Regions from separate parts of the Homo sapiens genome. Here region 2 is linked to region 1. Evidence: fine-mapped expression QTL. A gene starts in region 1. The other region holds a variant in brackets. All regions are shown on one strand. Distances are from middle to middle.

Evidence for each region. PIP is the estimated chance that this variant, and not a neighbour inherited with it, causes the effect. A credible set is the group of variants that fine-mapping cannot tell apart.
Region 2: its variant is the best candidate, but not a certain one, in a credible set for the expression of FSTL3 in whole blood (TOPMed, PIP 0.61).

What each region holds. Positions count from the first base shown.
Region 1 is chr19:673,264-678,626 of GRCh38, forward strand. FSTL3 (follistatin like 3) reads left to right here and starts at 3,129. Exons shown (of 5, transcript NM_005860.3): 1 at 3,129-3,263; 2 at 4,529-4,714. The coding sequence starts at 3,161.
Region 2 is chr19:697,364-702,726 of GRCh38, forward strand. No RefSeq gene overlaps it. Among named protein-coding and RNA genes, the nearest start is that of PRSS57, 4.6 kb to the left of the region's middle. The variant C/A (reference allele first, on the strand shown) is at 2,169.

The DNA.
Region 1 (5,363 bases):
CTCAGCCTCCCAAGTAGCTGGGATTACAGGTGCACAATACCAGGCCCACCTAATTTTTTTGTATTTTTAGTAGAGACGGGGTTTTACCATGTTGGCCAGGCTAGTCTCGAACTCCTGACTTCAAGTGATCCTCCTGCCTCGGCCTCCCAAAGTGCTGGGATTACAGGCGCACACCACCAGGCCCACCTAATTTTTTTGTATTTTTAGTAGAGACAGGGTTTTACCATGTTGGCCAGGCTAGTCTCGAACTCCTGACCTCAAGTGATCTGCCTGCCTCGGCCTCCTAATGTGTTGGAGGTTCACAGGTGTGAACCTAATGTGTTGGTGGTTCACAGGTGTGAACCACCGCGCCCGGCCAGGCATCTCCTCTTCTACGGACCCTTCCAGGACAGTGGGCCATCCGTATAACCCAGGATGAACCCCTGTGTGAAAGCCCTCAACTCAGTCCCATCTGCAGAGCCCCTTTGGCCAGGGAGGGTGGGACACCCACGGGTTCTAGGGATGAGGGCCCCATGGTCTCTGGGACCGCCGTTCTGCTGACCACCCCCCACTGCTCTCCCCCTCACTCACAGCACAAGCGTCTGTTTCCAGCGCACACCCCTGCCGCTCCGTCTGACGTTCGAGTCTCAACCTCAACGTCTCTTTCCTCTGGGAAGCCTTCCTCAGTCTCCCCCAGGCCCGGGTCAGGCCTGGGGCACCTTTGCCATCTGGGCATCCTCCGCCACAGAACAACACTGGATTGTCACTGTCTGTTTACCTGTCAGGATGTACCTGGAGGGAGACAGAAGCCTGGGGGGTGAGCAGAGGCCACGAGGAGCCACGGTGGGTGTCTGAGCCAGGGAGAAGTGTTATGGCAGCTGGGGTAGGAAGTGGGCCGCAGGGGCCAGGCTGCGGGCTGGAAGTCCTAGGATGAGCCTCGGGCCTGGATAGGGTGGGGAGAGGGGCAGAGCCGGGAGAGGGGAGGTCATCACTGGGGTCTCAGGAGGAGGCGGCGCTCTGGAAAGGGTCAGTGACCTGTTAGAGGTCACCCTGCACAGAGCCTCTGGGTTAGGGAAGACAGAGCCGGGAGCAGGAGGCCACTGGCAGCTGGCCTCGGTTTCCCCGGAGAGGGCCGGAACCCACGCCAGCCAGACAATGACCCTTTGATTCGCACAGCCCAGGCCGGAGTGGCCAAGCCACGGCGGGGTCAGGTCTTGGCCAAGGTCACACTGTCCAGCCCCCGCACATCCTCAGTGAGAACACAGGGTCCCATCCCTGCCCCACTCCCCAATCCCGGGAGAGTCCCGGGGGAATGCCAGAGGCCAAGGCCAGGTCGAGACGGCGGGGTGTCCCCCGTCAGTGAGAACACAGGGTCCTGTGCCTGCCCCACTCCCCAAGCCGGGGAGATTCCCGGGGGAAATGCCAGAGGCCAAGGCCAGGTCGAGACGGCGGGGTGTCCCCCCTCAGTGAGAACACAGGGTCCCGTCCCTGCCCTGCTCCCCAAGCCGGGGAGATTCCCGGGGGAAATGCCAGAGGCCAAGGCCAGGTCGAGACGGCGGGGTGTCCCCCCTCAGTGAGAATACAGGGTCCCGTCCCTGCCCTGCTCCCCAAGCCGGGGAGATTCCCGGGGGAAATGCCAGAGGCCAAGGCCAGGTCAAGACGGCGGGGTGTCCCCCCTCAGTGCCACTAAGGCAGAACTTGGCCCCTGGCCACTGGCTGCTGGGGGACACAGGCTGGGCAGCTAAGGTGGAGGAAAGGGTACAGGTGTGTCTTCTGTGGGCACAGATCTCACTCAGGCCAGAGAAGGGGCTGTGCCGTGGGGCTGCTGGACACGTCCGTTTCCACCTGCGGGGTGGGCAATGCCGGCACAGCGAGTGGCCAGACACAGGCATGCCCAGCAGACACCCAACCGCTCTCCACCACCTCAACCTTCTGTATTTTCCTGAAAGCATTTACCACTCCTTGAAGTTATAGATTAATTTGTCTCTGCATTTTGTTGTCCAAACCAGGAGCTCGGTGAGGGTGTGATGGGGTCTGCCTTGGTCACCGTGGCACCCCAGCACCCCGCAGGGTCCCTCTGGCCAAAAGAGATGTTCACTGATGCCCTAGAAGCAGGAACAGAGGGGCTCCCCTGCGCTCGCCAAGGGCGCCTGACAAATCTGGAGGCCCCCATGACAGAATCAGCTCCAGAGTAGGAAATGTGTCTGGCTGCACGAAAGCCCCCTCGGGCGCAGCGCCTCCAGGCCCACGCAGATGTCGCTGTCATACATTGTTGGAAACGCCTCTGCTGGAAACAGTGTTTGCTGAATCTTGGAGGGAGAGGAAAAAACCTAGTAAACATTCTTGTTGAGGTGATCTGGGGGAATGTCTGCAAAGGCTTGGAGGGCTGATGGGGCAGAGCTGCCCAGGGGCCCAGGACAAAGGCCAGGCGTGCGCGCGCACACACACACACACACACACACACACACGCAGTGGCCTCCCTGGGGGCCGTGGCTGGGCGAGGCCTGCTGTTGTCCGAGATGCTGGAAGGAGCTGTGTCTCTGGGTCTGTCCCGGCCGCACCCCGTTCTGTCCCACACCCAACCACTCCCCACCCACAGGCCGGCTCCAGCGGCCAGGTGGACGGGTGCGCGGCCCGCGCTGTGAGCAGGGAACCATATCCAGCTGAGGTTTTGGGTGTGTGGGGCGGGTCGGGAACAAGGAGGCCGGGTTGGGGGGCTCAGACCACACTTGGACCATGAAAGTGACCACATGCAAATCACAGAAACGGGATGCAGGGATCCACAGACGTGCTCCTCTTGGGTCCCCGTTACCTCACCGCCACCCCTGAAACTGAAGACCCCCAAACCCACTTTAATTCCTGGAGACGGCCCCTCGATCCACCCAAAAGGCTGCCACCACCTCGAACCCACACCCCTGTCCCGGTTCCGCCCTGGGTCCAGCCACATCTCCCCAAATGCATTCTCTGGCTCCGGAAGGGGACCCGGGCGCTCGCCCCCAACTGCCCCCCGCAGCGGCCGGGCCCGGCGCCTGCCCACCCCGCGCGGGACACGGCCTCGCCCCCGCCACTCCCGCGCCGCGCCCCGCCCCGCGCCCCGCCCCGCCCGCGGCCCGCGGGACCTTTATAGGGAGCGCCGGCCGCGCGCTGGGAAGTCGGTGCCGCTGCCGTCTCTGCGTTCGCCATGCGTCCCGGGGCGCCAGGGCCACTCTGGCCTCTGCCCTGGGGGGCCCTGGCTTGGGCCGTGGGCTTCGTGAGCTCCATGGGCTCGGGGAACCCCGCGCCCGGTGAGTGGGGCGGCCAGAGGGGCGGGCGGGGCGGGCCACCCACGTGGGGCTGCGCGGAATGCGGCCGGGGGGACGTCGGGGGGCGCGGCGGCGGCGGCGGGGGCGAGGGCGGTGTCCGGCGCAAGCTGGAGCCGGGAAGGTCTGAAGGAGGGTCACCAAGAGGTCAGCAGAGCAGAGGTTTCTAATCACAATGACCGCTGACATTTATTGAGCGCTTAGTGTCTACCTCTCCCCTCCCTGAACCTGTGCCATCCCGATAGTGCCGGAGCTCTCTTCATCTCCGTCTTCCAGATGGGGAAACTGAGGCTCAGGGTCACACAGCCTGTAGCAGGCAAAGCCAGGGTTCTAGCCGCGACCGTCCGGGTCGGTCCTGGTGCCGAGAGGTAGTGCTGGGTGTCGGGAGCCAGGCCCTCCAGCTGGGGCTGAGAGCTTTCCCGGGTCCTGGGTAGACGGGGCATGGAGTCTCACACCTGGGACTTGCCGGGAGGTGCCAGGCAGGAGACGGCCCCACTCCTGGCCTCAGTTTCCCCTCCTATGATGGGTGCCAAGGTGCTGCGTTCCACAAGCTGGTCCCTGGCAGTGTCTGTGAACCAGCAAGCGCTCTGGGATGGGGGCTGTGGCCGTTCCTGCCCCCAGGGACGGGGGAAGAAATGGGGGGCTCTCTGGCTCCCCACCCCCCATCCCTGCAGCCCCACCCCACCCCAGCCCTGCGCCAAAGGGAGAGCAGAGCCCCCTCCCCGAAGGCCACGTCCCTGGGGAGACAGTGAGCTCATGCAAGGGGAATGTTCCCAAGTTGGAGTGAGTAAGAGGCGGGCCAGGCGGTGGGGGGGCTGCCAGGCGCGGGGCTCCGCGTGCCCTCGCCCTCGGGTGCTGTCTAGACAGAGGGCAGAGGCGGGAGAAGCGGCTCCAGGGCCTGCTGACCCTGACATGCCCAGTGCCTGGTGTTTGGTGGTGTTTGAGGGGTTGGGCAGGGTGCCAGCCCCTGGCCTGGGGGCTTGGAGGGTACGGGAAGGGACCTCCTGGGGTGGGTGGGGGTTGGTGGTGAGGCTGTGGGGGGGGGCACGTGGAGCTCAGAGGGGAGGAGACATTTCCAGGGTTCTGGAGCCAGGGTGGGGACACCCATGTGGTTTTCTGCCCCTTCTTCCTGGGTGGGGGTAGATCATTCCGTGCGTAACTACTCAGCACCACCTGCATGCATCTGTGGGCGGGCCAGAAGCTGGGTGTCAGGAGTGGCCCAGGAGAGCACCCCGTTCCCCGGCCCGCAGGTGGTGTTTGCTGGCTCCAGCAGGGCCAGGAGGCCACCTGCAGCCTGGTGCTCCAGACTGATGTCACCCGGGCCGAGTGCTGTGCCTCCGGCAACATTGACACCGCCTGGTCCAACCTCACCCACCCGGGGAACAAGATCAACCTCCTCGGCTTCTTGGGCCTTGTCCACTGCCTTCCCTGCAAAGGTGAGACCTCAGGCCAGAAGCAGGGCAGACGTCTCAGCTCAGGACCAGCCACAAACAGTCATGGTGGTCGAGGGCCGAACGTCCAGGGACTGAGCCCGTCACAGGGGTATGTAGGAGGCTGCAGGGGGATCCCAGCCTCAGAGAGGGACTGGGGGGACTTCCCGGTTCCCAGGCTCCAGCCTCTTGCAGCTCAGGACTCAGGAAGAGACCACGTGGCTCCAGCCTTTGCTGGGGCTGAGCTCTCTGCCTGGGTGGCTCTTCCCACCTGGTCGATAAATGTCTGGCTTGCACCTAGCTCCTGGGAAGGTGGGTTTGCCATTCTGGCCTGTGACCCCAAATGTCCACACCAGGGACCTTCACTGCAGACTCCAGGGTCTGCGGTGGGGTTACAGCTGCATGTTTAACAAGCATTTGCCTCGGGACCCTGTTTTGAGAGGATGCCTCCCACATCAGACTAGGGGCTCTTGGTTGGCGAGTGGCACAGAACGAATGAATAAGATTCTCCGCACTGGAGGATGATGGTTTTTTTTTTTTTTTTTTTTTTTTTTCCTGAGATGGAGCCTCGCTCTGTCACCCAGGCTGGAGTGCAGTGGTGCGATTTTGGCTCACTGCAACTTCGGCCTCCGAGGTTCAGGTGATTCTCTTTCCT
Region 2 (5,363 bases), 24 kb after region 1:
GTGGAAAGGAAGGTATGAAAAGGCCCCACAACGAACTCGGGCTCTGCGAGATGCGGGCGGCCTCTGGAAGCTAAAAAACGGCAGGAAACGAATTTTCTCCTGGAGCCTCCGGGAAAAGCCAGCCCTACCGATGCCCTGACGTTAGCCCAGAAGGGCCTGCAGGGGCTTCTGACCTCCAGCACTGCCAGAGAATAAATTGGTGCCATTTCGTTTATTATTATTATTATTATATTTTCTTGAGATGGAGTCTCGCTCTTTCGCCTAGGCCAGACTGCAGTGGTGCGATCTCGGCTCACTGCAAGCTCCGCCTCCTGGGTTCATGCCATTCTCCTTCCTCAGCCTCCCAAGTAGCTGGGACTACAGGTGCCCGCCACCACGCCCGGCTGATATTTTGTATTTTTAGTAGAGATGGGGTTTCACCACGTTAGCCAGGATGGTCTCAATCTCCTGACCTCGTGATCTGCCTGCCTCAGCCTTTCAAAGTGCTGGGATTACAGGTGTGAGCCACCGCGCCCAGCCTCATTTATTATGTATATATTTATTTTGAGACAGGGAGACAGGGTCTTGCTCTGCCGCCCACGCTGGAGTGCAGCAGTGCAATCAAAGCTCACTGCAGCCTCGACCTCCTAGGCTCAAGCCATCCTCCCACCTCAGCCTCCCAAGTAGCTGGGACCACAGGCACCTGCCACCACCAGGCCCGGCTCATTATTTCATTTTTTGTGGAGACGGGGTTTTGCCATGTTGCCCAGGCTGGTCTTGAACTCCTGGCCTCGAGCAATCCTCCAGCCTCGGCTTCCCGGAGTGCTGGGATTACAGGTGTGAGCCACCATGTCTGGCCCAAGTTGGTATCATTTTAAACCACTACGTTTCTGGGAATTCGTTACAGCAGCTGCAGGAAAGATTTTGGGAAATGGAAAGCTGTTTCCAGGGCCTGGGGACAGGTGGGACCCCAGCTCAGGGTCCGTGTACTTGGGGACCATTTCCTGCTCTGCTGTGGTCTACTGGACCGTCTGGCATCGCTGTGACCGCATGGGCCGTGCTCCATCAATATTGTTTTTTTGTGTGTGGGTGTTTTTTTTTTTTTTTTTAGATGGAGTCTCGATCTGTCGCCAGGCTGGAGTGCAGTGGCGTGATCTCAGCTCACTGCAACCTCAGTGTCCCGGGTTCAAGCGATTCTCCTGCCTCAGCCTCCCCAGTAGCTGGGACTACAGGCGTCTGCCCCCACGCCCGGCCAATTTTTTGTATTTTTAGTGGAGATGGGGTTTCACCATGTTGGCCAGGCTGGTCTTGAACTCCTGACCTCGTGATCCGCCCGCCTTGGCCTCCGAAAATGCTGGGATTACAGGCATGAGCCACTGCGCCCGGCCCTGTTTTTATCTTTTAGAGACAGGGTCTCCTTCTGTCGCCCAGGCTGGAGTGCAGTGGTTTGATCTCGGCTCACTGCATCCTCTGCCTCCTGAGTTCAAGCGATCCTACTGCCTTAGCCTCCCAAGTAGGTGGGATTACAGGTGCCTGCCACCACGCCCGGCTAATTTTTGTGTTTTTTTGTTTTGTTTTGTTTTATTTGTTTGGTAGAGATGGGTTTTGCCATATTGCCCAGGCTGGTCTCAAACTCCTGAGCTCAAGTGATCGGCCTGCCTCGGCCTCCCAAAGTGCTGGGATTACAGGCGTGAGCCATCGCACCCGGCTGTCCGTCAATATTGTCAAACGACTGGACAGCAGGCACTCTGGTCTCCACGGTCGTCGCGTCAGCACGAGTGGGTCCCCTGGACTTGCTCCTACCTCCCCTGCTGCCCTCCGTCGCGGAGCACTGAGGCAGAGACCTGGAAAACGTCCCCAGCTCCACGGGCGTTAGAAGGAGAATTGCCCGAAGCTGCAGGCGTGTGGAACTTTGTTCCCTCACGATGCTGTCCCTGTCCCGGTCGCTGATGGGGACACAGTAGGGAGAGGGTAAGCGCCTTAGCCCTGCCACACAGTGAGGAGCCAGGGGGCCGGGGCTGCTGCCTCAGAGGAGCTCCCACTGCCTCTCGGGACCGATTCTATCCAGAGCTGGGCCATTTCCTTCCCTTTTGGTGAACAGTTGTGAAATAAACAACCGTCCTCCAGCGTCTCAGAAAACCGAGCTCCTGGCAGCCCTGAGGAGGGGGCTGAGTGGGGGTCACTGTTCC[C/A]ACTTCCCAAACTGAGGCCCAGAGAGGGGAGCCGATTTGTCTGGGGCCACACAGCACAGGGTCTTGACCCATGAGCCGCTGGACTGCGATTCTCCTGGAGGGTCTCTCCATGGCAGATCTGAGCGGCTCTTCAGGAGCTCAGACACCAGCCACTGCAGGGAGTCAACAGCAATGGTGACAACAGCTTCCTTTATTGTATTTAATTTTACATTTTTATTTTATTTATTTTGTTTTTTTGAGACGGAGTCTCGCTCTGTCACCCAGGCTGCAGTGCAGTGGCACCATCTCAGCTCACTGCAAGCTCTGCCTCCCGGGTTCAAGTGATTCTCCTGTCTCAGCCTCCCGAGTAGCTGGGATTACAGGCGCCCACCACCACGCCCAGCTAATTTTTTGTATTTTTAGTAGAGATGGGGTTTCACCATGTTGGCCAGGCTGGTCTTGAACTTCTGATGGCAGGTGATCCACCCGCCTGGGCCTCCCAAAGTGATGGGATGACAGGCGTGAGCCACCGCGCCCGGCCCCTCCCCTGCGAAAAATTGTTTTTCAAGACGAGATGTTGCCTGGTGGCTGAGACTGCAATCACAGCTCACTGCAGCCTCTGCCTCCTGGCTCCGCCTTCCCTGTAGCTGGGACCACAGGCTCACAAAACCACCAGGGTAATTAAAAAAAAAAAAAAAGCTAGACACGGTGGCTCACGCCTGTCATCCCAGCACTTTGGGAGGCTGAGGCGGATGGATCACGAGGTCAGGAGATCGAGACCATCCTGGCTAACACGGTGAAACCCCATCTCTACTAAAAATACAAAAAATTAGCCGGGCACGGTGGCGGGCGTCTGTAGTCCCAGCTACTCGGGAGGCTGAGGCAGGAGAATGGCGAGAACCCGGGAGGCGGAGCTTGCAGTGAGCCGAGATCGCGCCACTGCACTCCAGCCTGGGCGACAGAGTGAGACTCCGTCTCAAGAAAAAAAAAAAAAGTTTTTTTGTAGAGATGGGGTCTCACTATGCCGCCCAGGCTGGCCTCAAACTGACCTCGACTGATCCTCCCACCTTGGCTTCCCAAAGTGCTGGTGTAATAGGCATGAGCCACTGAGCCTGGCCTCACTTTATTTTTATTTTTTTGAGACAGATGCTTTGTCACCCAGGCTGGAGTACAGTGGTGTGATCTCTGCTTACTGCAACCTCTGCCTCCCAGGTTGAAGCGATTCTCCTACCTCAGCCTCCCAAGTAGGTGGGACTACAGGTGTGTGCCACCACACCTGGCTAATTTGTTTTGTATTTTTAGTACGGACAGGATTTCACTGTGTTAGCCAGGATCGTCTCGATCTCCTGACCTTGTGATCTACCTGCCTCGGCCTCCCAAAGTGCTGGGATTACAGGCATGAGCTTCTGTGCCCAGCCTCACTTTATTTTTTAACCCCAATAAATGTATATCCACAGGACATTGCTTCTTCTTTTTTTTTTTTTTTTTTGTTGTTGTTGTTGAGAGGGAGTCTCGCTCTGTCACCCACGCTGGAGAGCAGTGGCGCGATCTTGGCTCTCAGCAACCTTTTCCTCCTGAGTTCAAGAGATTCTCCTACCTCAGTCTCCCAGGTAGCTGGGATTACAGGCATGCGCCACCACGCCCAGCTAATTTTTTTTTTTTTTTTGAGATGGAGTTTCGCTCTTGTTGCCCAGGCTGGAGTGCAGTGGTATGATCTCAGCTCACTGCAAACTCTGCCTCTCGGGTTCAAGCGATTCTCCTGCCTCAGCCTCCTGAGTGGCTGGAATTACAGGCGCCCACCACCACCCCCAGCTAATTTTGTATTTTTAGTAGAGATGGGGTTTCGCCATGTTGGTCAGGCTGGTCTTGAACTCCCAACCTCAGGTGATCTGCCTGCCTTGGCCTCTCAAAGTGCTAGGATTACAGGCGTTGCCAACGCGCCTGATCTTTTTTTGTATTTTTAGCAGAGACAGGTTTTGCCCTGTTAGCCAGGCTGCTCTCGAACTCCTGACCTCAGAGGATCCACCCGCCTCAGCCTCCCAGAATGTTAGGATTACAGGCGTGAGTCCCCGTGCCCGGACCTGCTTCCTATTTCTTGAAATGGAAGATAGCTGCCTTAAGAATACACATTGCACTGGCTGGACGCAGTGGCTTGCGCCTGTAATCCCAGCACTTTGGGAGACTGAGGCAGGCGGATCCCCTGAGGTCAAGAGTTCCAGACCAGCCTGGCTAACATGGCAAAACCCCATCTCTACTAAAAATACAAAACTTAGCTGGGTGCGGTGGTGTGTGCCTGTAATCCCAGCTACTCGGGAGGCTGAGGCAGGAGGATCACTTGAACCTGGGAGGAGGAGGTTACAGTGAGCCAAGATTGCACCGTTGCACTCCAGCCTGGGCGACAGAGTGAGACTCCATCTCAAAAAAAAAAAAAAAAAAAAAAAGAATACACATAGCACAACCCAACACTACCTGCCTTCCAGCCAGACTGGAGAGGGCTGGCTTGGCCGCTACTGGGGGTCCCTGAGCTGTCCAAAGGCCCTGCTCCCCGGAGCTCTCTGGCCTCAGTTTTCCCATCTAGGGAATGGGTTGCCCTGGGGCAATGCCGAGAGTGCTGATGAGAATTCAGCAAGGTTGGCTGGGCACAGTGGCTCACGCCTGTAATCCCAGGACTTTGGGAAGTTGAGGCAGGCGGGTCACCTGGGGTCAGGAGTTCGAGACCAGCCTGGCCAACATGGTGAAACCCCGTCTCTACTAAAAATGCAAAAATTAGCTGGGGGTGGTGGCGGGCACCTGTAATTCCAGCTACCCGGAAGGCTGAGGCAGGAGAACTGTTTGAACCCAGGAGATGCAGGTTGCAGTGAGCTGAGATCGCGCCACTGCACTCCAGCCTGGGTGACAAGAACGAGACTCCGTTGGAAAAAAAAAAAAACAGCAAGGTACTGGATGCGGCATGCTGGTGGGGACTGGGGCCCTGGCGCCCCTTGTAAAGCGCCTGTTTGCCCATCCGTAAGCTGGATCCTGCCCCGTCCTTCCCATGGAAGCCATCACAGTCAGAGAAGAGGGTAGAAGACAGGAAACCATCCATTCATTCACTCAACTCATTCCGTGAGCATTTATTGAGCACCTACTGTGTACAGACAGTGTTGTGGGCCTTGGGGACTCAGCAGTGAAGAAGACAGGCAAGTTCCTGCCCTTGTGGGGCTGACATTCAGCAGA